Regions from separate parts of the Homo sapiens genome. Here region 2 is linked to region 1. Evidence: fine-mapped expression QTL. A gene starts in region 1. The other region holds a variant in brackets. All regions are shown on one strand. Distances are from middle to middle.

Evidence for each region. PIP is the estimated chance that this variant, and not a neighbour inherited with it, causes the effect.
Region 2: its variant is the best candidate, but not a certain one, in a credible set for the expression of TBL1XR1-AS1 in tibial nerve (GTEx, PIP 0.52).

Annotation. Positions count from the first base shown.
Region 1 is chr3:177,034,092-177,045,811 of GRCh38, forward strand. It overlaps TBL1XR1-AS1 (TBL1XR1 antisense RNA 1), which reads left to right and starts at 3,314. Exons shown (of 4, transcript NR_174966.1): 1 at 3,314-3,653; 2 at 4,271-4,359; 3 at 10,806-10,893. TBL1XR1 (TBL1X/Y related 1) reads right to left here. Exons shown (of 16, transcript NM_024665.7): 11 at 4,222-4,343; 12 at 4,007-4,081; 13 at 107-234. RefSeq lists enhancers at 3,289-4,488, 5,830-6,124 and a silencer at 7,535-7,779.
Region 2 is chr3:177,074,934-177,091,264 of GRCh38, forward strand. All of the region lies in intron 2 of TBL1XR1 (TBL1X/Y related 1), which reads right to left. Among named protein-coding and RNA genes, the nearest start is that of TBL1XR1-AS1, 46 kb to the left of the region's middle. The variant ATGTC/A (reference allele first, on the strand shown) is at 8,376.

The DNA.
Region 1 (11,720 bases):
AAAAAAAGTTTCCACTTCATGAAATCTTCCCTAAACTTCTGTCATATCTATTGGAAGTCTGATTTGTAGAAGACTCATAAAAGGAAAAATGAAACAGAAGTATCACCTTGCTAACATAAGGTTGGCATTTGGATTATTAGTCCCTGGTCCTGTTGGACTCCATTTGATAGTATAAATTTCTTTATTATGTGCTTGCAAATCATGGACACAATTGTCTTGTTTCATACTCCATATCTAAACAAAAAAGAAAAATGTATACAATTATTTTTCCATACAATGAGTATATTTAAAATATTATTTTGACACTTAAAATATTATATGGACAGTCTAAAACATGAGTGATATAACCAGAATGATGATAGAATATTTACAAAGAAACTGAAATGCAATAGGATATATTTAATATTTACATCTCTGTTTAAAAAAAAAAGTTAGCTTTAAGCCCTTTAAAAATATTCACTATTACAAAGTTTGAAGACTGAATTAACTATAGTTGTTCTGAGATTAGTTAACGATCCTAAAATGTTGAAGGCACAGTTTTTACACTGTCCCTTAAGCAAAAGATCTACATAATAAACTGCTCTTAGAATTTTAGAATCAGGAAAATTTTACAATGGAGAACTGAAAATAAATAACCAACTTATAAATAATGAGGACTCACAGAGAACCGTAAAAAGTAGCATAGGAAATAAAGCTCAAATGAAAAGTAGGAAAAAAAAAAAGTAGAAAAAAGTAGTCAAAGTAGAGAATAAGCCTTTCCTGAGATGAAAATATGCCTGTGTGTATAGATTTCAAGTGACTATTATTTTTGAGCAAAAATTCATAGAAATCAACACGAAGAGTATTTCTGGGAAAAAAAAAATCACTCAATAAAGACATGGTAGGTCCTGCAGTTATCTCCTTAACACATACACATACAACATGCCAAACCCAAGGAGGGCCAACCAAGAAAAAAATCAGCTCAACTTTACATTTCCGTGACATAACCATTAAAAGATAATGAAGCATCAGAGTGTTTTTGGTGCCCTATGTATTTACAACCCCAAGTAAAATAAATCTGAACGACATGTTTTCAGAACTGATTTCATTAGACCTTTCTAATTCATAGAATTTGATACTGTTGGCCACTCTCAACTCTTACCTCCCTTGAAATAAGTTTCCTCTACATACTTTCTTTTTCCACTTTCTCAGTCACCTTCTCAGTTTCCTTTGGAAAGCTCATCCCTCTTGATTTGGTGATTGTTAGAGTTTCTAAGACTCACTTTTTTAGGTCCCCTCTTTTCTTACTCTGTACTACCTACACAGTTTTGTCCCTGCCCCAATTTTTTTTTTTTTTTTTTGGAGATGAAGTCTCACTCTCTTGCCCAGGCTGGAGTGCAGCACCACAATCTTGGCTCACTGCAACTCCGTCCCCCGGGTTCACGCAATTCTCCTGCCTCAGCCTCCAGAGTAGCTGGGATTATAGGCACCTGCCGCCACGCTCGGCTAAATTTGGTATATTTAGCAGAGATGGGGTTTCACCATGTTGACCAGCCTGGTCTTGAACTCCTGACCTCAAGTGAACTGCCCACGTCGGCCTCCCAAAGTGCTTTAATTATAGGCATGAGCTGTGGCAACATGGGGGCACTAGCTGTGGGTGTCTGCCTGCAGACCCTGACCCAGCAATGGATGAATAAAGTACACTAACACACAGATATCCTGTTTCGCCAGTCCAGCTGAGGGTGTCCGAGCCATTTACAGACTCCCTGGAGAGTTCTGTAAACAGTTGCGACCATGGCCCTATCCGCTAGTGAGACTCAAATTTATTCAGTAAGATTAATTCACAAAGGCTTGAGTCAACACCATTAGAGGGTAACTGACATTGTGGACTTCCCAAGTAAAAAGCACTTAAGCACCCATGGCACATCAAAGGTTAGTCTTAATATTATATGAGTAAACAAGCTAGCTAGGTAAACTACCCTGCCTTCCTTTATTACTAGTTTAATTTGTTTAACTAAAGGTAAAGGAACCAGGCCGCGTTCAGCCAGATCTATTACTGAAGTTACTTCTCAGTTTTCCAAGAAGATATGTGTCTATTTCTATAACTATCTCTAATATTTTTCCCACCAGCCTGATTGAACCCCAACAGTGAACCACCAGGCCTGGCCATGCCCAAGGATTTTAAAGACCACCTATCTGCTGAGAATTCCCAGTTTTTAATCTTGAGCTTACAGTTCTCTAAGCATCAGTCCCACCTATCTCCTCCATTCGCATGACTCAGCGTCACCTTCTCATTCCATCTGGCATTCCCTCTTCTCAGAAAACGGCCCATTACACATTATCCATCCATCCTAGTTTTTGCTTTAAAATCCTTTGTGACATTTAAACATTCTTAGGATGAAGAAAAGCTCTCTAACAATTTCTAGTTTTAACCTCTCTCCAGCTTCAACTCAATATGTGGCACAAGGCCCTCTGGACACTGCCCTTCTGTCATTTCCTCATATGTGTCACACACAGTTCCAGAAGAAGTTTTTTTCATGTTATAAGCATTAATACGTGTGCACATAAGGAAAAGCCAAAGATGAAAGCATTAAGAAGAGTATTAATACTAGCAATTTTGTAAGGGAGCCCAGACTTAAGAAGAACTGTCTAAAAACATAGCAGATACTTAAAGGAGAAAACCTCACAAGTTTCGCAAAGTTAAATTTAATCTGTTCATAGTAGCAGGAAAATCAGTTTTCCCTCATGATTTTCATATCTGTAACGGTCATCACATCTGCAGTCCTTGGTACTGCAAAGTCAAGGATAAAACTGTTTTCAGTAGAGGGTTAGCTGTTGCAGGAGAGGGCTCAAAGCTTCATTTATTTTGGAAATAAGTATTACGTTGTTCTTTATCTCCAAATGCTTTTTTCCCCAAATGAGGAATCTGGTGTGCTTAGGTGCGAGACAGCAGTTTTGCTTTTAGTCATACAACAAGAAAAACAGAGATCCATGTTGAGATGTGGATGTTGGTATGTCAACTAGGCTCGCTCACTGAGAGATTCTCTGCTATGTATCAGTTTCCCAGCAATGGTGATACATAGTCATACCACAGCAAAATCAAATTAATACAACGCAAAGAATTCCAATCAAATCCATGAATGCTACAAAGATTTTGAGTACTTATTAAGTCAAATCTTTACATATGCAAATAAACTTTAATTGCAAATAAACTTTAATTGCCTCAACATATGACTTTCTAATGGTGAAGACAATTTATAGCATGACCTTTCTTACTATTGGTGATGTCTAATTTTATCTGTCTTCTTGACTGAGTCACAGGGTACAGATATTTGGTGAGACATTATTTCCGGCTGTGTCTGAGGGTGTTCCCAGTTGAGACAGGCATTTAACTTAGCTGACTGAGAAAAGCAGACTGCCACCCTCCCCAATGGGCGGCGGGGGGGGCATCACTCAGTCCAGTGAGGCTCTAAACAGAACAAAACCGCCAAGGAAGCAAGAATTCTCTGCCTCAGCCTGACTGCTGAGTTGGTATATTGGTCTTCTGCTCTTGGACTGGGACTTACACCATTGGCACTCCTTCTCTGGCCCTGGAATGGAACCACACCTCCATCTTTCATGGGTCTCCAGCTTGTAGACAGCAGACTGTGGGACTTCTCAGCCTCTATAATCACGTGAGTCAATTTCTCACAGTAAATCTCTCATCCATCCATCCATCCATCCATCCATCCATCCATCTTCTTATTGGTTCTGTTTCTCTGGAGAGCCCTAACTAATAGGGTATCATATGTCTCATTGTATCACAAGCCATCATTTTAATATAATTTGCTACATTCAAATAGTTTTATGTATTTCAGAAAAGAAACTATAAAATTTAAAAAACAATGGTTAGCCATTTAAAATGTTGGAGTTTTCATGCAGGTACAAACACTCCATGTAAGACAGACATTCTAAATGGTCTTAAAATGGCCAGAGCAACCATACTGTGTGACACCGCCAACCCATTTCTCCCTACTAAGCAAATTACCTTTAAAGTCATGTCGTCAGAACAGGAGGCCAAGAGATTGCCAGTTGGGTCCCATTTGATAGCATTTACTTCATTCTAAAAATAATAGTAAATATTCACATTTTCATTGTATAGACTGGGTAGCTACTTGAATATTAAACATACATACTTTAAAACTATTCTGAAACATTACTTGTTAATCATGACCACTTTAATGTGGAAAAAAGGTTTCTTACCGTATGTCCTTGGAATGTTTTAATAGGTCTGTCTTGTCCTAATTTACAGACATGAATGCACATATCTGTACTACAAGAAGCAAAGGTGTTGTTGCTCTGCCAATCAACATCCAATGCTGGTGCTGCAAAGGAACAAAGGTTAGATTTGCTTTTATTCCACATGTACTAAAATCCAAGAGTTTTAGCTTTGAACCATTGTTGACTAATAAAATATACTAACAGGCACTTAAACATTTTACTTTATACTTTTTAAGATATTAAGAAAAAATTAAAATAAAAGTATCTATATACAACAATATTAACAAATTTCAATTTAGTTATTTCTAGGTGAGACAGACCCTAAGAGAAAGTACACTGGCCTAGTAACTGGGAGATGAAGGTTCCTGAGAGCTGGCTCTGTGGGTCTTGGGTTCTCTTTTATAAAATGATAAAATTAAATGTGATGATATCATGCTTTTCATTTCTAAAATCTGTGAGTGTTCAATGGACAAGAAGCCTCGGTTCTGTCACTGCATAATTAGTGGACACAAGCAAGTCACTTAACCTCTATGATATATCCTCTTTAGATAAGGGTAACATGCAAGTGTTACCCTCACACACAAGAGTGAGGATAACACACAAGTTGAGCACCCCAATCTGAAAATCCAAAATCCACAATGCTCCAAAATCTGCAACTTTTTGAATGCTAATATGATGCCACAAGTGGAAAATTCCACACATTAAATGCTTAATACAAACTTTACTTCATGCACAAAACTAGTAAAAATACTGTATAATGATGCCATCTGGCTATATTATAAGGTATATGTAAAACATAAATTAATTTCATGTTCAGACTTGGGTCCCATCCCCATGATATTGCCTTATGTATATGCAAATATTCCGAAATCAGAAAAAAAATAAAAATAAAAAATGCAACACAATCCTGGTCCCAAACACTTAGATAAGGGATACTAAACTTGTACTATCTTTATCCTTAGTACACATGGTGAAGACCAGGTGAGATCATGTGTGTGGAAGTACTCTGTCAATTACAAGAGTTAGACAAATGTTATGCTGAATAAGTATCATTCCCATTATCATCTACTCAACTAACAAATGGAATACGGCATATGATTTGCAAATAATTTTCTTCTAAGCAACTTTTGCCAAATACCTCTTAAAATCTGTTCTTGTCAAACACCTCTTAAAATCAAATGCCCCTTAAAATCAATGAATTTAAAAATCTCTGAAGCCCCAAAGCAGGCTGGCATTTAATACTTTGAGTTTAGCTCTGAAATTATTGAACATCCTTGTCTCCTGCTGCAAGGTGCAAAAGATCTCCGTAATTAGCAACACAGATTATGGTAATAATAGTGAGTAACTGGGTTAGGCAACAGAAGCATATCAAAGACTGCATTTAAAGCAGGGGTTGACAAACTATGGCACATAAGCCAAGAATGGCTTTTATAGTGCAATGGGGGAGGAGGGGATCAAAGGAAGACATACAAATGTGGAAAAATGAGATTTAAAGTTCAGTGTCCATAAATAAGAGTTTTATTGAAACCCAGACAAATGCATGAAGTTGCATATTACCTATGGCTGCTTTTTCACTACAAGGGCAGAGCTGATTAGTGGCAACTGAGATCTTATGGCCTACAATGTCTAAAATACTTTCAAGTCCTTTAGTGAAAGTTTGTCAACCCTAATTTAAAGAAAAAACTTAAAGGGGAAAAACAGGAGAGTTAAAGTTGAGCTGTGTGGCCAGGTGTGACTCAGCGCTTTGGTAGCAAAGGCAGGAGAACTGTTTGAGCCCAGGTGTTTGAGACCAGCCTGGGCAAGACAGTGGGACCTCATTTCTAAAAAATAAAAAATTAGCCAGGTGTAGTGGTCCATGCCTATAGTCCCAGCTACTTGGAAGGCTGAGGCAGGAGGACTGCTTGAGCTGGGGAGGCCGAGGCTGCAGTGAGCCGTGATTGCACCACTGCACTCCAGTCTGGGCAACAGAGTAAGACTACTATGTCTCAAAAAACAAAAACAAAAAGTTTAGCTATGTATACTAATTAGTAGAAATACAAAGCATTTAATAAAGGAGATTAGAGACGTCTGTGGAAAGGGAAAACAAAGCCACAAACTCCCTCATTGTGTATATCCAAGCATAATAGTAACTGGCTATGTTAAAAATGAAACATAAACAGGTGCTTAAGCAGTTAAACTTATCAGCCAAGAGATATGTCATGCGTAAGAACTTGTAACTATGGATAGGAGAAGTAAAAAGAATGGGAAAAGAAGATTTAAAGCATTTAGGACTCAGAAAGGAAATTTTAATCAGAACTATACTGAGATTTTTTTTTTTTAAAAGATAAAGTACAACAGGAAAGAGTGAAATTGATTTCACTGCCTGGCTAAAGACAAATCAGGTAAGCCCCAAATCTAAAAGTACTAAGTACTAAAGAACAAAGAAGCGAATTGTAGTAATATGACCAGACATTAAAATAATTAGTTTTGGGTATATTTCTACAATGAAAAACTAGGTATCAGGACACCACTTGGATAGAGTAAGCTCATAAAGGAAACAGACTGGAAAGAAAAGATTTAATGGGAACTTACTATGGAGGTTACATGAAATTTCAAATAACTATATTTTTAAAATATTTAATCCTCCCTCAATCAACCTTTTAACAAAGTGCCATATAAAATTATTAACATAAATTCACCTTTTATACAAAATTTCAAATTATGAGAATTCCCAACAAAGTAAACATAGTCAAAAATCACACCTCAGAGTTGTCAGGCTGAGTAAGTTGCAGGCTGTATTTTTATTCTAGTCATGAAGCAGCACTGCTTTAGCTGGTGTTTGCTCTTCCTGCCCATAAGCCTTTTTGCCTGTGCTGTGTCCAATTCCCAGCTGAGTGCTTCACTGCTAAGGGCTGCCAGGGACAAACTTCACAGAACTGCCTTGCTCTGCTGCTCTGTATCCAAGCTGGTGTTGTGTATGTTTTTGGGAAGGAGGGAGGGAGGAGAGATCTAAAGACCTAGCACCCTTGGTTCAATGTAAGAAAAACTTTGAGGTGCAAGCTCCCCTCTGCACCAGGCTGAGACTGGGCCTTTCTTCACCAGAATCACTTCCTTCCTTGGCTTCTTCCCTCCCCCCCATCCTGCTTCCCATATTTCTTCACTTATTTCTCCTAAGAGGTTTTCCACAATAAGTCACTTCACTCAAATGTTTGGCACAGGGCCTGCCTTTTGGAGAAACCCAACCTAAATCAACTAGTAAACAAAAATATGTGCCAACTTTATCCGCATGATGTGTGAACTCTGCCTCTACTTGTGTGTATCACCATTTCTGACAGCAATGTGGATGACTGTCCTGTTCATTTGGCAGTCAACTCTCATTCGTTCCTTACTGCACTCTGCCCTGCTAGGATGTGCAACCCAGGAGGGCTATTGTAAGTTATGTCCCGGGTTCCTGTGCCTAGTGGTTTCCAGATGGGTTCATACAATGTAAGACACTGTCAGGAGTTCAAAGTGAGGAGTCCAAAGTTAGGAGTAGTAAGAAGACAAGCACGACTGCCATCATTTCAGGCTGGGTGTCGAGCATTGCCAGGCAGCCTATCCTCTACAACCCAGTCCCCACTGGACAATCAGGTCCTGCCTTCTCCTCTAGAGTCTTAGACTTCCTTCAATTAGTCTCTTGGTTACCTCCTATTCCTTAGTTTTTCACTCTTCCCAACACCTCTGCAAATATTTCTTTGTATTAAATTCCCTTTATTGGAGTGTCTAGTTTACACGTCGTTTTCCTCCATGGAACCTAATTCAGTAACTACTGTGCACTTTCATTTTGACTGTGCACTTTCATTTTGACATTAAGTATTATCACTTAAAATACAATTCTAAAAATTTTAATTTTTTTGGTTAGTAATCTTTCTATTGTTAACAAGTGCAAAAAAATGGGGAAGGGAGGCCTGAAAAATCCAATTAGAAGACAGTTAAAGATACATTAAAGTGTTATTCACAAGGCCAAATATATGTCAGGATGTTCCAGAGGTGTTAATTTTATACAGGGCAGCCTGCAAAATGTTAGAGAGGAGGCTAAAATAAACAAAAAGTAGCATTAAAACAAACACGCTATTAGGTTCATAAAAGAAAAACAAAACCAAACTACATAACCAAATCAAGATTGTTGGGATGTAGGAAATGTTGCAACGTAGGTTGTGTGATTAACGCTTTTGTGATATGCCTGCCTCATAAAATACAGTGCTTATAGATTGATGTAATCAAAGAACACATACCTCCTTATTTTATATTTACTCTTAAAATGAGTCTTGATAGTACAAGTTCTTTAGAAAGAAATATCTAACATAAAAAAAAATTTTATGTACCTGACAAGTGAGAGAAGTGTGTTCACTAATACCCATCTCATTTTACACATAAGAGGCTATGAAAACTTAATTTTCCCAGTTAAATAATTTCTTAAAATCTTGGAGCTAAAGTTAACATTTTTGTCTGCTCCACCCCTCTTCTGATTTACTTTCATTAACCCATGTAGCCTCCATAATTTTAAAAGAGAAGGAATGAACCTATGAGCGAAGAAGGATGCATTTATTACTGACTTTATTTTTAAAAAAAAAAGCCTTTATTGACATATAATTCACATACCAATTCACCTGTTTAAAGCATACAATTCAATGGATTTCAGTATATTATTAACTTATAAAATCTCTAGTCAAATATAAAACTTTCTAACTTAATTTTGATTTCTCCTTTGGCCCATGAGTTATTTAGAAGTGTGGGTTCCTGAGTACTTGGGCTCTTCCAGAGAGCTTTCTAATACTGATTTCTAATTTAATTCCATTGTTGCTATAAATGTCATTTAGGTCAAGTTATCGGATAATCTTCAAATCGTTTATAGCCTTACTTCCCTCTTCCCATCTTCTCAGTCCATCAATTATTGAGAGAAGAATACTAAAGTCTTCAACAATTGGAAGCACAATAATTTCTATTTCCTTTGAAGTTCCATCAGTTTTTGCTTCATATGTTTTGAAACAGTGTTATTAAATGCATTATCATTTTAAAATGTTTTGTTGAATTGACTGTTTATCTTGTATTAATAACCTCCTTTTTCCCTGTAAATCTTCTGAGCTTTGAAATCTAGTTTGTCTTATATTAATGTAGCCATTTCAGCTGTCTCTTGCTGAAATGCATACTTATACACTTGAAATGTATAAATGTACACTTGATTAGTGATAGCATGGTATTTATTTTTACATCATTTTATTTTCAGCCTATTGATATTTTTGTATTTGAAGTATATTTTACATAGGCAGTATATAGTTGAGTCTTGCTTGTTGATTCAGTCTCACAATCTCTGCCTTTTAATATTTAGGCCATTTACACTTATTTTGCTTTGTCATATGGTTACATTTAAATTTACTGTACTTCTGTTTATCTCTTCTGTTCTTTCCCCTTTTTGTATTTCTACCTTCATTTGGATTAATTGGATATTTTTTATGATTACATTTTCTTCTCCTTTGATGGGTTCTTAACTGTAATTATTTTTAGTAGTGTTTTTGGATTTATAGTGCACACCTTTAACTTGTCACCATCTACCTTGAGGTGATAATTTTAAATGGGCTAAATAATCTTATTTTCTGCCCCTCTTCCCTCCCCTACCTTTTTACCTAAGATTCTAACTATGTAGGTATTAGTCTGCCCAAAGTTTTATCACAACTCACTGATGCTCTGTCACCACACCCTCTTTTCCAGTCTATGTTCTCTGCGTTTTTGGATAGATTCTATGCTGCCTCCAAGGTCATAAATCATTTCTTCCCGCAGCATCGAATCTGTGGTTTATCCTAACCAGTGCACTTTTCATCTCACATGTTGTTTAATAACATAACTTCATCTCTAGAAGTTTAATAACATATCTTCTGTGTCTCTACTTAGCTTTTTGAACATATGATATGGTTAATCTTTGAACAATGTGAGGGTTAGGAGCACCAACCCCCTGTGCAGTTGGAAATCTGCACATAGCTTTTGACTCCCCAAAATCTTACCAACTAATAGCCAGCTGCTGATTAGAAGACTTACTGATAACAGTTGAATAAGATATATTTTGTATATTGCAGGAATTAAAAATTATGCAGAATGAAGACAGACCAAAAAAGAGTATATACTGTATGATCCCAATCATACAATGTAATCTAATCTCTGGGGATGGGAGAGAGATATCACTAAGGGGCAAGAAGAAACGTCTGAAGGTAACAGATGTATTCATTATCCTGAGTGCGGTAATAGTTTCAATGGTGTATACATATGTCAAAATATATCAAATGGTTCAAGTAAAATACATACAGTTCATTTTATGTCAACTGTACCTCAATAAAATTGTCTTAAAAACAAAAGTATGGTAAGAAAGAATACGATGGGTAAACTGAAGCTTATTTATTCGTAAAAATACTTTGATACTATGTACCTCATCAGGTTGTAGTCAGGACTAAAGGGGACAGAAAGAGCACCATCTCCAACACAGAGTTGGTACTAATCATATGGTACCTAGCAATAGTACCATAAACATACTTACTTCAACTTTACATTACTCCTAGGATGTACGAGAAATTAGTATGATTAACAGCCAAGAAGCCTGAGAGAATTCTGAAAACTAGAAGCAAAGATGAAAAGGAAGCACAACAGGTGAACAAAAATGTATGTGTAAATGCTTATTAAGTGGTGAGCTTTAATCAAGTTGAATTGTTTAACGATGTTTGCAAACTTATTCAGATACTACAGAAAAATCATTTTGCACCTTATTTTGGCTTGTTTAGGCACACTAAACAGAGAATGAAAAAAAAGCAAAATGCCTGAAGTTGCAAATTTCCATTTTAAAGTTGATGCTGTGCCACTGGCTCGCTGTTTGTAAAAGGATGTCATCAAAGATTTGAGAATAACCAGGGTTATTTTAGTCAGTCTCCAAACTGAAATTTTTTCTAGCACAACAAAATCAAAGAGACAGCTAAATCAGGTAGTACTAAAACCACTGGGTATCTTGTTCCAGTTTAACATCATTTAGTTACTGCAGTCGGGAAACTCACTGAAAAGCGGCGCAAAGGTTCTAGGCTTAAACGGAGCGTGGGCACAAAAATATGGCTGGCTCTACTCAAGCTGAATGTCTGGGTGTGTGACTGTATATCATGAAGGACGGAGCACTATTTTCGAGGTCTGATTAATCAGATAAAAGTACCACATTGAGTATTTCTTAAAAGAGAAATCCATCTAAGCCACCAACATTCCAACAACATTGGGAAAGTCTATTTTTTACTTCCTGTAGACAAATACTCAGGTACCTGGATCCAAAATGAGAAAATGACAACAATACCTAAACTTATAGGAGTCTATACAGTATTTTCATGTATATCATTTAGCCTTATCCCATAACAAACAGGTATTATTATTATTATTATCCCTCATTTACAGACAGTGAAAAGGAGGCTCAGAAAGGTTAAGTGACTTGCTCAGTCTTA
Region 2 (16,331 bases), 43 kb after region 1:
CCATTCTGGTAATCTGTACAAAATGTAATGATGTAAGACAACAGCCCCAAAGACCACAAAGTACTCTCAAAATCCACATGTCCTTCTGCATCAGTTTCCCAGCGCTACTGTGATAGCTACAACAAACTGGGCCACTTAAAATTACAACAGAAACTAATTGTCTCATAGTTCTATGGCTAGAAGCCTGAAGTGAACTGTGTTGGCAGTGCCACGATCCCTCCAACGGAAAAGAGAGTCGTTCTATCCATCTTCCAGCTTCGGTAGCACCCGGCATTCCTTGGCTTGTAGCGGCAAAATTAGTCTCTGCCTCCATTTTCACATGGCCACCTTGCTTTGTGTCTGAGTCTTTACGTGGCATTCTCCTCTTTGTGTGTTGTCTGTGTCCAAATTTCCCTCTTTTTATAAAAACACCAGTCATACTGGAATAGGGCCCATGCCAATAACGTCATCTTAACTTGATTTACAAAGATCTTATTTCCATTCCAAATAAGTCACATTCACAGGTACTGGGAGTTGGCACCTCAACATATCTTTGTGGGGACACAATTCATAATATCTTCTAGCTTTCAAAACTTCCCTACTAATCAGTATAGTGTGGTTCAATACAGATTTCCATCTTAGAAAGAACTAACTCAAGTATATTTCACTTTTTCAGGCTGAAAAAGTAACAGATTTGAAGGTATGTTTCCCAATCTAAATAGACAGACCCCTCTCCTCCTGCCATCTACTTAGCAGTTAGACTACTCATTACACAATAAAGGTTAAAAAATAAGCTAGCCTCAAGCTAATTTCTTCCTGCCTTGGCTGCCAAACTTCTATTTAAAGGTGCTTTCTAGCAAAGTTCTAAATTAGCGTGACAATAAAGTACCATAAACTAAGAGGCTTAGAACAACAGAAATTTATTGTCTTATAGAAGTCCAAAATCAAGGTGTTCACAGGGCCGCATTCCCTCTGAAGGTGTGCTAAGGAGGGGTCTGTTCCAGGCCTCTCTCCTAGCTTCCTTGGTGTCTTAGTCCATTTGGGGCTACCGGAAAAAAAACAAAAAAACAAAATACAACAAAAAATACCTTAGACGGAAGTTTTTTCTCACAGTTCTGGAGGCTGTGAAGCCCAAGATCAAGGTGCCAGCAGATACAGTGCCTAGTGAAGGCTCTCTGCTTCATAAATGGTGCCTTCTGGCCATGTCCTCCTCATACTGTTTAAGGAGCCTGGGGGTTCCCTTCAACTTCTTTTATAAGGTCACAATTCTATTCACTGAGGGCAAAGCCCTTATGTCTTAAGCACTTCCAAAAAAGCCACCTCTTAATACCACTGCAATGGAGATCAGGTTTCAACATAAATTTTGGAGGGACAAATTCGGACCATAGAGCTTGGCTTGTAGACACATCACTCTAGTCACTTTGCCATGTTCTCCCTGTGTCTTCACACTGTTCTCCCTCTGTATGTGCCCAAATTTTCTCTTTTTTATAAGGACTCCAATCATAAGGTATTACGATCTACCTAAATGATCCCATTTTAACTTAAGTATCTCTATAAGGACCCTATTTCCAAGTAAGATTACATTCTGAGGTACTGGAGGTTAGGACTCCAACTTACGAATTTAGGAGGATACAATTCAATCTATAACAGTCACACTAAGCTGAGAAAGCCTGGGAAGACAAATACAGATTCCATCATTTGCCCCTTCCATGCTGTAGAAGACAGGTACAGACAAGGGTAACAAAAGCCTTTTCTTCTTACCTTCAGTCATCTGTCCACCTTGGTTATCAGAGAATCCCCTTAAAACAAAAAACAAAACTAACCCTAATAATGGTAACTATGATGGCATCAACACATGGGAAGAATCAATTTAAGTGGCTGTAGAGGTTGAATGTATTACTGGTTCAGAATTTAAGCATTCTTTTTTCCTGAAATAGAGTTATTCATCCCCATCCCAGCAACTTGGACCTTGGCTATGTGACCTAATTTGGCCAGTGGAATTCCAGATGATGTGATACACACTATATCCAATCACAAGATTTAAGAGACATTACAAGTGTCTGCCAGCTCTCTTGCTCAACGAGCATGTCCTATATGGGGTCTACTTCAACAGCTTGGCTATCCAAATGAGCAGACAACTGGAAGAGAGCCACAGTCAACCCACCTTATCTACATACAAAATGAATGAGAAAGAACATTTTAGTATTGTAAACCAGTAAAACTGTCTACTAACAAAGAACACTAACACACCTTACAACAGTACTTTCGCTGCATACATCTCTAGGGAATATAATCTAAGAACTAAAAAGAACCACAAAGAAATTTTAAACTGCTTTTGGTAGTCTTATAATAATAGTTTTATTAGTATTATTAACTTGAAACTTTTTATAAATATAGAGCAGGTAAGAAACTATGTTAAATCCATCATAAAAGAAAATTTTCAGAAGGGAAAAATACTTATTTACTTTAGATCTCACCTGAAAATGAGGGGCTTTTGGTGAGATGGAGTCCTTGAGGAAAAGGGAAAATAACTTATATTCACATAATACAAATGAAGCTTTAAAAATCTACACGTTCTAAAATGTATCCAACACCTCTTACAGCCACGTCTCTCTTTCTACAGTACCTATCACCTGTATTATTACGACAGCCTAAGAGTCTCCTAAGTTCTCCATTCTATGGTTCCAAAGTACCTATCTAGCCATATGGTACCACCTTTATATGCACTTTACTCTTCAAGTGAGTATGCTGGTATCATTCTAACATGTCCCACAAATTTCCACTTTTCTGCTTTTAGTTCTGTTTCAACTGCACTTGTTGAAATTTGTCTATTCTTCTTCAAATATTATCTCTTTATGATACCTATTCAAATATCAACATTAAAGATGTCTGGCTACTTTCCTCCTGTACCCCTAAGTGCAGTTTTATTGCTCTTCTCAAAACTGGACAACAGTAAAAAGATTATTGACCAGAAGTCAGAACGTTGACATTTTCTTTTTGATGCTACTGGCTTTTGACATTAAGGCATTACATCAAGTCATTTTAACTTCCCGGAGCCCCAGTTTCTTCAACTGTGAAAGAGAATAAAACCTAATCTATACACCTCACAGGTGGGAATGCATGGAAAAGCCATTTATAACCCACTAAGTGTTAACATTATTATGATGTCACCTTTTAATATGCATATTTTTTCAACCACTACCAAATTATAAGCATTTAAAAAGCAGTCTGTCATGATCTGGTTTCTCTTCAGAATGAATAAATCTTTTGCCTGTTTTAACAAAACAAATCAGCAGCCTGTATCTTATAAGGCACCTAAAACATTATTCAAATATATTTTTAAACTTTCATAAATAATAAAACATAGCTCTCATGCTCCAGCATATAAAATATAATTCGGCTGAGTGCATGGTTCACACTTGTCATTCCATCACTTTGGGGGGCAGAGGCGGGAGGATCACTTGAGCCCTGGGCAACATAGGGAGACCCAGGATCTACAAAAAAAAAAAAATTTTGGTTTTAATTAGCCAGGTATGGTGGCATGAACCTGTAGTCCCAGCTACTTGGGAGGCTGAGGTGGGAGGATCACTTGGGCCCAGGAGTTTGAGGCTGTAGTGAGCTATGATTATACCACCACTGCACTCCAGCTGGGGCGAAAGAGTGAGACCCCCATCTCAAAAAAAAAAAAATAAAGTATAATTCAAGCAGTATTTACATACAGTTTTGCCTTGATTAAAATAAAACAATATCGGCTGGGTGCGGTGGCTCACGTCTGTAATCCCAAACCTTTGGGAGGCCAAGGCGGACAGATCACGAGGTCAGGAGATTGAGACCATCCTGGCTAACACGGTGAAACCCCGTCTCTACTACAAAAAAAATACAAAAAATTAGCCGAGCATGGTGGCGGGCGCCTGTAGTCCCAGCTACTCGGGAGGCTGAGGCAGGAGAATCGCGTGAACCCGGGAGGCAGAGCTTGCAGTGAGCTGAGATTGCACCACTGCACTCCAGCCTGGGCAACGGAGTGAGACTCCGTCTCAAAAGAAAAAAAAAACTGCTAGGGACTTCTCAAAAGGACACAGAAGCCAATTTGAGTACCGATACAGAAAACAATGCAATAACCTAAAACATAAATCTGTGTAAATCCATGCATTCGTAGCATAGGCTATTTTAATGGCAGTTACATCACACTGTTGGCTGATTATTTCTTGGGATGTCGGTATTTCACAAAAAAAATGTCGGCCGGGTGCGGTGGCTCACACCTGTAATCCCAGCACTTTGGAAGGCCGAGGTGGGTGGATCCCGAGGTCAGGAGATCAAGACCATCCTGGCTAACACGGTGAAACCCCGTCTCCACTAAAAAAATACAAAAAATTAGTTGGGCGTGGTGGCAGGCGCCTGTAGTCCCAGCTACTCGGGAGGCTGAAGCAGGAGAATGTCGTGAACTCGGGAGGTGGAGCTTGCAGTGAGCCAAGATCACGACACTGCACTCCAGCCTGGGCGACAGAGCAAGACTCCATTTAAAAAAAAAAAAAAAAATTTGTATCTAGTATTATAGCTGCTTAGATCTTATCCACACTCTTGGACTTATTTGTAATTTTTTTAATCTAAATGTAACACTCTACAAATAATTCCTGTTATAAATTTTAATCGACTGTTGCTACAGTGCGTGATAAAGTGGCAGTCATCATTGGTAAGAAATCCTCTGAAAGTTTAACTCTTAAAAATAATAGTCAAACGTCAAGAAGAGGTAGCAGTAAAATAAAAAAGTGTCACAAGTAATTGGGTCTATATAATCAATTAAAATAAATATGGGTAGAAAAGGAAAATAAGAGTTAGACAAGAATGAGGACTAGTAACTAATGAGGGTAGCAAATCACTTTATGTGTTCATTTAAAAAAAAAAAAAAAAGCTCACCCTGTATGTGATGTTGCTGAGTTCCATAAAGACAAATATCAGGCCGCATGATGTAATAGAAAGAGTCCTGGACTGAGTCAGGAGACCTCTGTTCTAGTCCAAGGCCTCAGTTTCCTCATCTGTAAAATGAGGGTACTGAATTAGATAATCTGAAAGGGCTCCTCTAGCTTTAACACTGAGTGATCCTAAAGATGAATTTAGGAAGAATCAATCAAATGTAAGATTTCTGTTAACAGTAAGGTTTAACTGTTAACACTGGAAACAGCAGTAGGGAACAAGGTTGAAAATAATTTTCATAAGGACATAATTATGTCCTCAATAAAAAGGACATACACAAAATTTTAAATTGCAAAAAGCAATTGCTTTCTAACTTTTAACTGCTAGAAAGGTTTTTAGAATATATCAGCCTTAGTAACATTATCAGGCTTTATCATTAACATCTAAGCTGAATTAGTAATGAGTAACCCAAATTATGGCCCGAAAAGACCTATTCACCTTTGGCCAGACTGCCCAAGTAAATCTAGAAAATAGTACACCTTTGGGCTAGTACTTACTTTAAGTGATAAAGTGCCCATAACTGCCCCTGATGAAATAACTGAACAAAGAATAAAATGACAAGAAAAATGATTAGAGTAAATTAAACTATTTAAATTTAACATGCAATAAAACAATAAGTATGCTTGTGATATCCTTCTGTGTTAATGAGCATATTTTCCCTACTCATAATACTTTTTTCTGGTTCTCTCAAAATAGAAATCTGGCTTCTCCTTCTGACAATAAAGCTAACTGAAAGAAAAAATATATATTTTTTTTCAGTGACACACAGAAACATTTTTTTAAAAGAGTGTCTCCATGTTTAAGTTTTCTATACTGAAAGAAATCAAACATCTATCAGTAACAATAGGTCCTGGTACCTCAAAAACTGTGGTTTTCTAACTAAATTACCTAAATACAATTAACTGCCTGGTTCTAGCAAATCCTCCAGGGTCTGACAAACTTAACAACTAGCTTTAAGTTCAAAGATCAGCTGATGTTCTACTTTATATTTATTTGTTCCTTTATACTTCATTGCTTATGTTGATGCTAAGGTTCTTACCTGGCAGACTTAACACTTCAAGGATATGAGAACCAGTAAACGTATCTCTACAATCAAGAAAATCTTAGAAATCAACTTTTAAAGGATGTAAAGATATGATGAAACATTCATATGGAAAAAGCTTGTTTTTAAAAGTTTTTCTTAAATGCAAATTACCTAAAGTGATTATAAAATAACTTGACACACATGCAAGTCCACTACTTAGTCATTTGAACATTTCACCTTGGCAATACATAGTATCTCCTAATACGACATTCAGAATCATTAATAAGATTTCTCTCTTGTTCTTGGCCAGTCTTAAGATGGATGTAATATCAATGTGTCTCTGTGATAGAAATCTTTGAAACAAAACTTTCATTTACATGAAATTTATTTTTCATTTTGATTCTGGTATTATGATGGCAAATAACAGAAATCACATGGATATACAGATAACTCTTTAGGGTTCTATTTTGATCATGAGCTGTTTTCAGCAATTTTATCCATCTATCTTACCTTGTCCATCATTTTTTTCAGAGACTTAAACATTCAGATATTTAATAACAGGTGGGTTGTGGTGGCTCACACCTTTAATACCAGCACTCTGGGAGGCTGAGAGAGAAGAATCATTTGAGCCCAGGAGTTCTACACCAGCCTGGGCAACATAACAAGACCTAATCTCTACAAAGAGTTTTAAATATTAGTGCATGCCTGTAGTCCTAACTACTCAGGAGGGTGGGGTGGGAGGACCACTTGAAACCAGGAGGTCTCTGAGGCTGCAGTATGCCGTGACTGCGCTGCATGCACTCCAGCCTGACTAGATAAGGCAAGACCCTGACTTCAAAAAAAAAAAAAAAAAGATATTTAATAATGAAAATACAACTACTAATTATAAGATACAATTAATAGTATTGTCTTTAGTCAGTATAATTACAGTATTGTATATATAATATACAATATAAAATTTAAGTCTAACTGAACTATTGTTTCTGTTTGGGTAAAATATTCTCCTCTAGGAAGACACTGGTACTAAAATTAGAAGTTAAGGAGAATTTGATGTTTAAATAACTAGCTGGTACACAGTGTGAAACCCCCTTGATTGTTCACCACTAAATTTCTATCTGGAAGGCATGAACACACACTTGCAATTCTACCATCTCCAAAGTCAGCATACAACACAATTTTCTCTAAGACCAAAATGCCTTTTTTAGGTATCAGTAATATAGAATTCTTACAACAAAATGGCTAGAGCTACGCACAACATAGCACTTTTACTTTGAGAAAGTTATAATATATACAAATGGTGATTTAAACAAAAAAATTATTGCAGTATATTTGGAGTGATAAAAAGACAAAAGACCAAAAAAGAAGTCCAAATTTTTGGTTGCTAGAAAAATATCAAACCCTTATAACATCAAGTAATTTCATGTTATGTTCTAAAATGAATTTAAAATTGAGGTACTTCAAAAAAAAATACCAGAGAGAAAAATGAAATAAATTTAAAAATCTTATATCTTGTAATTACAAATTATATTTTGATACTAATATTTACTTTTCTCTCATCCCCACTCACAATTTAATCTGATACATATATTTAAAAATTGAGCCTATCAGAATAACTATCAGATTAACTTTCCTAACAGCAAATTAAGAGAGGCCAGAAAATGAACTGGTATTTGTAACAGTTATGCGTAACACTAGATGTTACAGCACTGAATTTTAATACAACTATACTTGTCTCTCAAAACTTTATGAAAGAACCATAAAATCCTGTCACAGTGGCTTTTTAATCCAACAACTCCCTAACAGACTATTACTAAATTTCTAAGATAGAGATTATATATATATATATATATATATATATATGAATATGAGACGGAGTCTTGCTGTGTTGCCCAGGCTGACGGGCAGTGGCACCATCTGGGCTCACTGCAAGCTCCACCTCCCAGGTTCACGCCATTCTCCTGCCTCAGCCTCTGGAGTAGCTGGGACTACAGGCGACCACCACCACATCTGGCTAATTTTTTCTGTATCTTTTAGTAGAGACGTGGTTTCAACGTGTTAGCCAGGATGGTCTCGATCTCCTGACCTCGTGATCCATCCGTCTCGGCCTCCAAAGAGATATTTTAAAATAAATTCTAATCAATCCAATCTCGCTAATAATTCCACAATAAAAATCATACAGCATTTTTTTTTGAAAAATAAATACAACACACTGAAAAAAGTGTCCTAAGCCATAATCCATAAATGACTATTGGTCAATTAAGAGAGTGGAAACAAACTCTTAATAATTTCCTCCCATAGCATTTTCAAAAACCTGTTCGAAATTACCAATTCCATGAATTCCATCTCCCATTAATCATACTTGAATCTGAGCACAGTCTAATTATGTATCCATCCCCTCCAA[ATGTC/A]TGTATTAGAAATGACCTTAGTCTTTGCTACATCATTTTGAAACGATCAAGTTAGTATGTATGTTTTGTCTTCTTGCTTTTATTTATTCATATTTCTCTATCTTTCTGCATCATAAGCAGGTCACAGCTTAATGCACAGGCAGAAAAATGTTACCGATAAGCTCTTTAAACTATTTTCAAATTTAAAGAAATCAATTTTGATGAATGCCATAAAAAAACAACATATTAACAGGAATCTGACTTCGAGAAATATCATTCACTGGTCTCTATTTTATCTTAACATTTTACTATGAAAATTTTCAAACATATAGAAAAAAAATGAATATCCACATAGCTACCACCTACAATTTAAAATTAACATTTCCTCATATTTGTTGTTAATACATCTATTCAAAGAACTTGCAGTCATCAGTATACTTCTGTAAATACTGCAACTTGCCCATCAAGTAATGGTTTTTTTTTGTTTTTGTTTTTGTTTTTTTAAAGGAAAAACTTGGCCAAGCATGGTGGCTCACGCCTGTAATCCCAGCACTCTGGGAAGCTGAGGCGGGTGGATCACGAGGTCAGGAGTTCGAGATCAGCCTGGCCAACATGATGAAACCCCATCTCTACTAAAAATACAAAAATTAGCTGGGCGTGGTGGCGGGCACCTGTAATCCCGGCTACTTGGGAGGCTGAGGCAGGAGAATCATTTGAACCCAGGAGGCGGAGGCTGCAGTGAGCCCAGATTGCCCCACTGCACTCCAGCCTGGGAGACAGGGCGAGACTCCGTCTCAAAAAAAAAAAAAAAGAAAAAAGAAAAGAAAAGAAAAAACTTACACAAAATACAACGGACATATACTGGCTATATCATTCAGTAAGTTTTAACAAACGTATGTACCTGAGTAACGTAAATCCCTAACAGAATACAGAACATTGCCAATGCCTTAGAAAGCTGCCATATGCACTTCCCCACTTAATCCCTGTCCTCACCACTCATTCCTACCACCTACCAACCTCTTCTTCTTTCCCTTTCATAACTTCGTTTTGGCTGTCCCACCCCACATGCACAATAGATGAGGTCTGTCTGGTTTTAGGATATATGTAGAATCACATATGATGGCTTGTTTTGTGAAGACTAATTCAGTCAGCATAATGTTTCAGAGATTAATCCAAGTTGCTGCAGACATCGATGCCTTGGTTCCTTCCTATTGCTTAGGAGTATTCCATTGTACACATACAGCAACTTGATAATCCTTTTTCTTGGTTTATAGATACTTGAACTGTTACCAGTTTGGGGGTCAACCCCATATTTTAGGAGAGTTTATAAACCACATTTGGTACTCCACCTCTATGGGTATCTTCTTCCTGGATTTCCTCCTTTCCTGTGCTGGACCCCATTACTCTGCAGTGCAATGTTAGTTCTGAACAATTCTCTAATTCCTCTGCCAACGGGAACCTGTCCTCAGGCAAAGATCCGTCAATAACAGGAAACTCCAATGCCATTCTCTTAAGAATCCAATCCGGTCTGACTTCTGAAACAGGTTTGTTCTATGGTGTCCTCATAATGTTTGTTTTTCATATGTTGTCCAGAAATTGTAGTTACTATTTGTGGGAGGATTTGTTCCATAGCAGCCACTACTCCATTTGTGGAATTATAACTCTCTACTATTCTTCTGAGCACACTTGTTCAACACTGTAATTGGCCTACTTTTTTGGTGTTCCCCCCAACTTTCACCAGCTAGATTGAGCCAGTTTCTTTCAATCAAAAAATCGAAACTAAATCAGAAAAAACGAGGCCTCCAGGAACTGAAAAGCATAAGAATAAATCCCTAAGAGAGAGCTGAAGTGGATCCTGCAATTCTTCCTATGAACCAACACAAGTTCCAAATTCATCCCAAGATGTGCATGTGGAACATACCCAAAGAAGCACTACAAAGGTCTTGAGAACTGAAGACACAAATCACCTTCAGGTTCCATACTAACTCCTGAGAGGCTCAATCAGGAAGCAGACTCATAGTAGCTTAGCAAAGACTTTGAAAACTGAACTGACATTGGAACCACTGCCCATGGGTGCCACAGAACTTGGGAGTCTGAGCCTATCAATGTTAATTGCTTGCTTTCATTTAAAAACAACATTCTCCAGGAATGGTACAGATGAAGAAAATCTGATCATTCTCAAAGGAAAAGACAATAACAGATATTAATCCTGAGATGATCCAGGTGTCAGAATTCTCAAAGATGCCCATGAAGGGACAGGAAACACAAGTTCTCAGAAGTAGACACGATAAAAAAAAGTTTTCAAATGAAAACTTTATGACTGAAAAAATATGGGAAAAAATTCTAAGACAATAGGATGTATAGGAAAATGATAGCAAACACTATGATCTTCCTGAATAAGAGATTACATATAGATGACAATAAAATTCTGTTTTAATAAAAGAAAATTTTCCCAAAATAACAAATATCTTTAGCTCTCAAAAGTAATGAAAAAATCTAGAGACCTGTCATCAAGGTGCTTTCAATCCTATTATTCTATGGGTGCCTGAGGTCCACCAAAAACTCTCACGATTCACCTCTACACAATCTGTGTTACACAAAATTTAAAAGAATGCTGGAGTGCAAATGAGATAATGGTTCAATTCTTGGTTCTGTAACTATGACAAAGTATATGATATGGAATCACTTCTCTAAACATTAGTTCTTCATTTGTAAAATGAGAACTAAACAAGAGAACTTACTTAGCTTTGTAACACAGTCCCAATATCTAATTTTAGGAACCCTCAGAAAGTCATTCCAGTCTCCCCAGATATTAGCACTAGCCAAGTCCACACACGTAAGTTTTAAATTATCTAGTAGCCACATGAAAAAGTTAAAAAGAAACAGGCAGAATTTATTCTAATAATAATATTTTATGTAACCCAATGTATCTGGAATATTATTTCTTATAATCAATAGTTTAAAATTGAGATATTTTACTTTAAAAAATTAAGTCTTCAAAATCCAGCATGCATTTTACATTTACAGCACATCTCAATTCTGACTAGTCTTATGTCCAAGTGTTCAACAGCTACGTATTTCTAGTGGTTACCATACTGGGTAAGTCTAAATACAGACATGAAACGGTGGGGGAGGGGAGCCAATAGAAAAGAAGGGCCAAGGTGTCTCAATATGGGTAGTCTGTCTTACATACATACATACACAAGCTGTATGTTCAGGGGGTAATGAAAGTGTCTGCTCTGTTACATGACATGGGGTTGGAGCAACGGAAGTCTCTTTTCTGAAATAAATTTTCATCTCTCTACTATAATTAGAGCCCACAATTTTTTTTTAAGAAAAATAATGGTTTTCTCACCAATGAAACAGATATTAACAACTTTACATGGTTATAACAATATTTAAGTAAGATAACTACTCTCTATCACGGAACATATACAGTTGACCCTTGTACAAAGCAGGAGTTAGGGTTTTATCAACCCACCCAATCAAAAATCCACATATAACTTCCGACTTCCCAAAAACCTAACTACTAACAACCTAGTTATGACCAGAAGTCTTACTAGTAACATAAACACACACACCTTACATGTTGTAGCTATTAGATGTTGTATTCTTACAATAAAAGAAGCTAGAGAAAAGGTTATTTAAAAAATCATATGGAAAATATATTTACCATTCATTAAATGGAAGTGAATCATCCTGAAGGTCCTCATCCTCTTCACAAGGCTGAGGAGAAGTTGGTTTTGCTGTCTGAGGGGTGGGAGAGGTAGAAGAGGTGGAAGGACAGACAGGCAGAAAGGCAGGCATACTAGATGCAACTGTACTTTTAAAAAAACCAAGTAGAAGTGAACCCACATAGTCCACACCTGTGTTGTTCAAGGGTCAACTATACTAACCCTTCCATTTTGGGGTTGATTTTTACTTACTTTTTTATTTAAAAAAAAAATTAAACTAATCAAAATGGTTTTTGGCATTTTTCTCTTACATGTTTAAAGTACCTCTATGTAATCTGTTCTATAATCATAAGCCCTTAGGCTCTAAGTCACTTTTTTAAAAAATATCAGGTTGTAATAAACTCAAAATGATCCCAATAAACATCTGACAGGAAATGAAGGCCTAACATATAGAGGGTTGTGAATTAAGAACTTTAGCATTCCAACCTTTTTGTTTTAAAAACTCTCCTTACAGGTGCTAGTAAATCATAGAAAAAGAGAGAAAATAGGCATGGTGAAGGATTTCTGTTTCTATGAACCAGGAATAAATCAAAAGATATAACTAAAATTAACTGGCTTAAGAAAAAGGACAGAAGTTGAAGAAGCAAACAAACAGAACCTGTATGAAACTAGAAGTTCCTGTCCTTTACACACTAACTTTAGCATGTTAATTTCTGTCTCAAGCAAAATTTTTTTTTTTTAAATCATGCAATCTTATCCACTGGACGGATGGATGAATGAAAGGAAAAAAGAATGGGGGGCGGGGAGTCTTCAAATGGCTTCAATACACCATTGAAGTAAGAAATGGCCTTCAGTTTCCAATTTTATGGCTATATGGGACCATGCTGTCCAACCCCAAATAGTCAAAATCTAGTAAGACCAAATTTAATATAGTACACCCAAAGAAAATTAGGAAAACTTAAAAATAAGCCAGATAATATTCAGTGATAGGACACCTTTTGTTTTAACATTACCGTGTTAAACATCTATCCCTCTATTGTGGGTATATGTCCTTGCTCTCACACTACTCTGTGTTTCTCGAGGTAAGACAGCTAGTATTTTATTCCTGAATAGTGCCTACACTGAGAATTTATAGAAAGGACAGCAAAATTATTTGAAACATGAAAAATGTTTTAAAATGAAAATAGTAATTCACCATAACAAGTTCTATCACAGTTAATATAAATTGAGCACCCCAATCTAAAAATTCAAAATCCAGAATGTTCCAAAATCTGCAGTTTTTGGAGCAGTGACATAACGCCATGAGCAGAAGATTCCACACTTGATCTCATATGACAAGTCACAGTCAAAACTCTGGTTCATGCACAAAATTATTTAAAATACTGTATAAAACTGCCCTCAGGCTATATATATATAAGGAGTATATGAAACATAAATGAACTTCGTGTTTAGACTTGGATCCTATCCCCAAGATATCTCATTATAGATATGCAAATATTCCGAAATCCAAGTAAATATGAAATCTGAAATACTCTGGTCCTAAGTATTTTGGATAACCAATGCTCAACCTGTGTAAAGATTAAATCCATGTAAGAAGCCAAGCTTTCTCTGCCTTTCACGTGATACTACAGTCTTTCACAGCTTCCATTTTAGGCTCAGTTATTTCAGCCTCTAATGACAAAGATACAAGGAATCAGTTAAATATAACTCCAATTTGTGTGTGCTCTGCTTTTCTTCATTTGTTTAAAAAAAAAAAAAAGAAAAGAAAAGCCTAGAGACTAAGAGGTGTTCAATGTAACCCTCTTACTGTTGATTTGGGAATCAGCTCTCCAGAGGCATACATTCTCAACCAAATGAAAATGGTTCACACAATATCATGCGACAATGTCCTTCTTTCTTCACATTTAATAATACCAGTTCCTAATCATGATGGTAAAAGATTAAAAATGAAAGTAACAATGAACTTTCCTACAGTAAATAGAACAAATTAATTTATGGATGCTACATTTATAAGTAGGTAATAATCATTGACTCCTCGCTATGTACCACACTCTTTCTCGGCAGCGACCTGTTGGCAGGGTCACAACTCCTTGGGGTCTTGTCTTCAGTCTGGCAAGTCATAACTTCTTTCAGTTTTTTAAGAATAATCAAGTTCTGAGAGAAGATATGTTAACAAAATACAGCAGGGTGGTTTATGAGTAAAAGAGGTGATTTACTAATTACACTGAGAAATGTACCTGTCAGTAGACCAGAATATTCATCAATGCAGAAGAGGCCAGCAGGGCCCAGCCCACATTCCCTCATCACTCAACTTTCCCAAGCAGCTGGGTAGCTTTTTACTGCAAAGCACCCTGAGGCCAAACAGCAGGTCAGGAGCTGCTGCCCTGCCCTCCGCAAAGCCTAACTGCCTAACTCCCAGACTAAGGAATGGGGGTTAGTGGACAAATTACCCGAGGTTCCTTGCCCCTTAGGTGGAAAAAGAGACATGTTCTACACTGTTCCCGAGGATGCCACATGATTTGAGTCCAACTGAACAAAAAAATTAGTCTTTCAGGCAGTCGGTATCAGCCTCCTTTTCCCTTTCTGGCTTCTCCACAGGAACTTTCTAGATCCACCTCTCCAATAAAGGGTTATAATCAAGGGTCTGGTTCCTCAAGAATCAAACCTAAGAGAACTGCTCAGCATCATTCTATTCTTTGTGGAAGAGTCCTGTTGTTAAACCAAATTAATTTTTAGAAGTTGTGGGATGACTATACAAACAGAACAAGAGGAAATAGAAGGGCTCAGGGGATTGATCGACACAGTTGGTAGACTTTTCTGGAAAATAAGAATCTATCTGTGGAACAGTTCAAAGAAAAAGATATGCAAACAGTTCTAAAATAAACTAGCAAACAGTTATAAAATAAATGAAAAGATGCAAATTAGAACCATAGTGAAATACTATTTCTCACCTATCAGATTAAAAGACATATATGTATCAAAAAAGACATCATATATACTGTCTGCTAATGGGGAAAGAGGGAACCTCGTATATTGCTGAAAGGAACATAAGATGGCATAATGCTTTACAGAAGGAAATCTGGCAAATTGACATGCACATTTCATGCTCCTATCTAAAAACTTCCACTCTTGAAACAGCTATCTGTGTAATGGAGTAGAATGCAGCTGTAAAACAATGAATAAAGACTATCTCTATGTCCTGCTATGAAGTGATCTCCAGAATATTTAAGAATACCCATGGATTTGTTTACATTTGAGCAAGATAAACCAAAAATAGTTTGATTTTTAAAACTTGGTTACTTACAAAAGGAGGAAGTAAGAATGTATCTCACTTTGAAGTGATATAAATGTTTCCTATGATTATAAAACAAAATAAAAACAAATATTTTTAAATTCTAAATACTAAAAATAAAATGAAACAAATTGGCCTGGACCCAGCATAGTGGCTCAGGCCTGTAATCCCAGCACTTTGGCAGGCTGAGGCCAGGAGGAGTGCTTGAGCCCAGGAGTTCAAGACCAGCCTGGTCAACACAGGGAGACACTGTCTCTACTAAAAAAAAAAAAAAAAAAAAATCAGCTGGGTGCAGTGGCTCACATCCGTAATCAAGACACTTTGGGAGGCTGAGGCAGGTGGATCACGAGGTCAGGAGACAGAGACCATCCTGGACAACATGGTCTCTCTTAAAAATGCAAAAATTAGCTGGGCATGGTGGCACGCACCTGTAGTTCCAGTTGCCCAGGAGGCCAAGGCAAGAGAATCACTTGAAGAATTGAGGCGGAGGTTGCAGTGAGCCAAGATCACGCCACTGCACTCCAGCTGGGCGACAGAGCGAGACTCCGTCTCGAAATAAAATAAAATAGAAGTTAAAACAATTAGCCAGGCATGGTGGCATGCACCTGTGGTCCCAGCTACTTTGGGAGGCTGAGGTGGGAGAATCGATTGAGCCCAGAAGGTCGGGGCTGCAGTGAATCATGATCAGGCCACTGCAATCCTACCTGGGTGACTGAGTGACACCCTGCTGAAAAGAAGAAAAGAAAGAAAAAGAAAAGAGGGAGAGGGGAAGGGAAGAAGAAAAGGGAAATGGGAGCAGGAATTGGGGAGATAGGGGAGGGGAGGGACAAGCTGACCCAACTATATATCAAATTGGAGGTGGGCAGGGGGGCAGATTACACATGAGGACTTACTTTAAAACGTAATACTTAGCTGTAATCCCACTGAGACGTGGACAAAAAGAGAAAAATGAAAACAACAGTCACTACTCATACTGGTTAAATATACATTTATAAATATAAAAATAC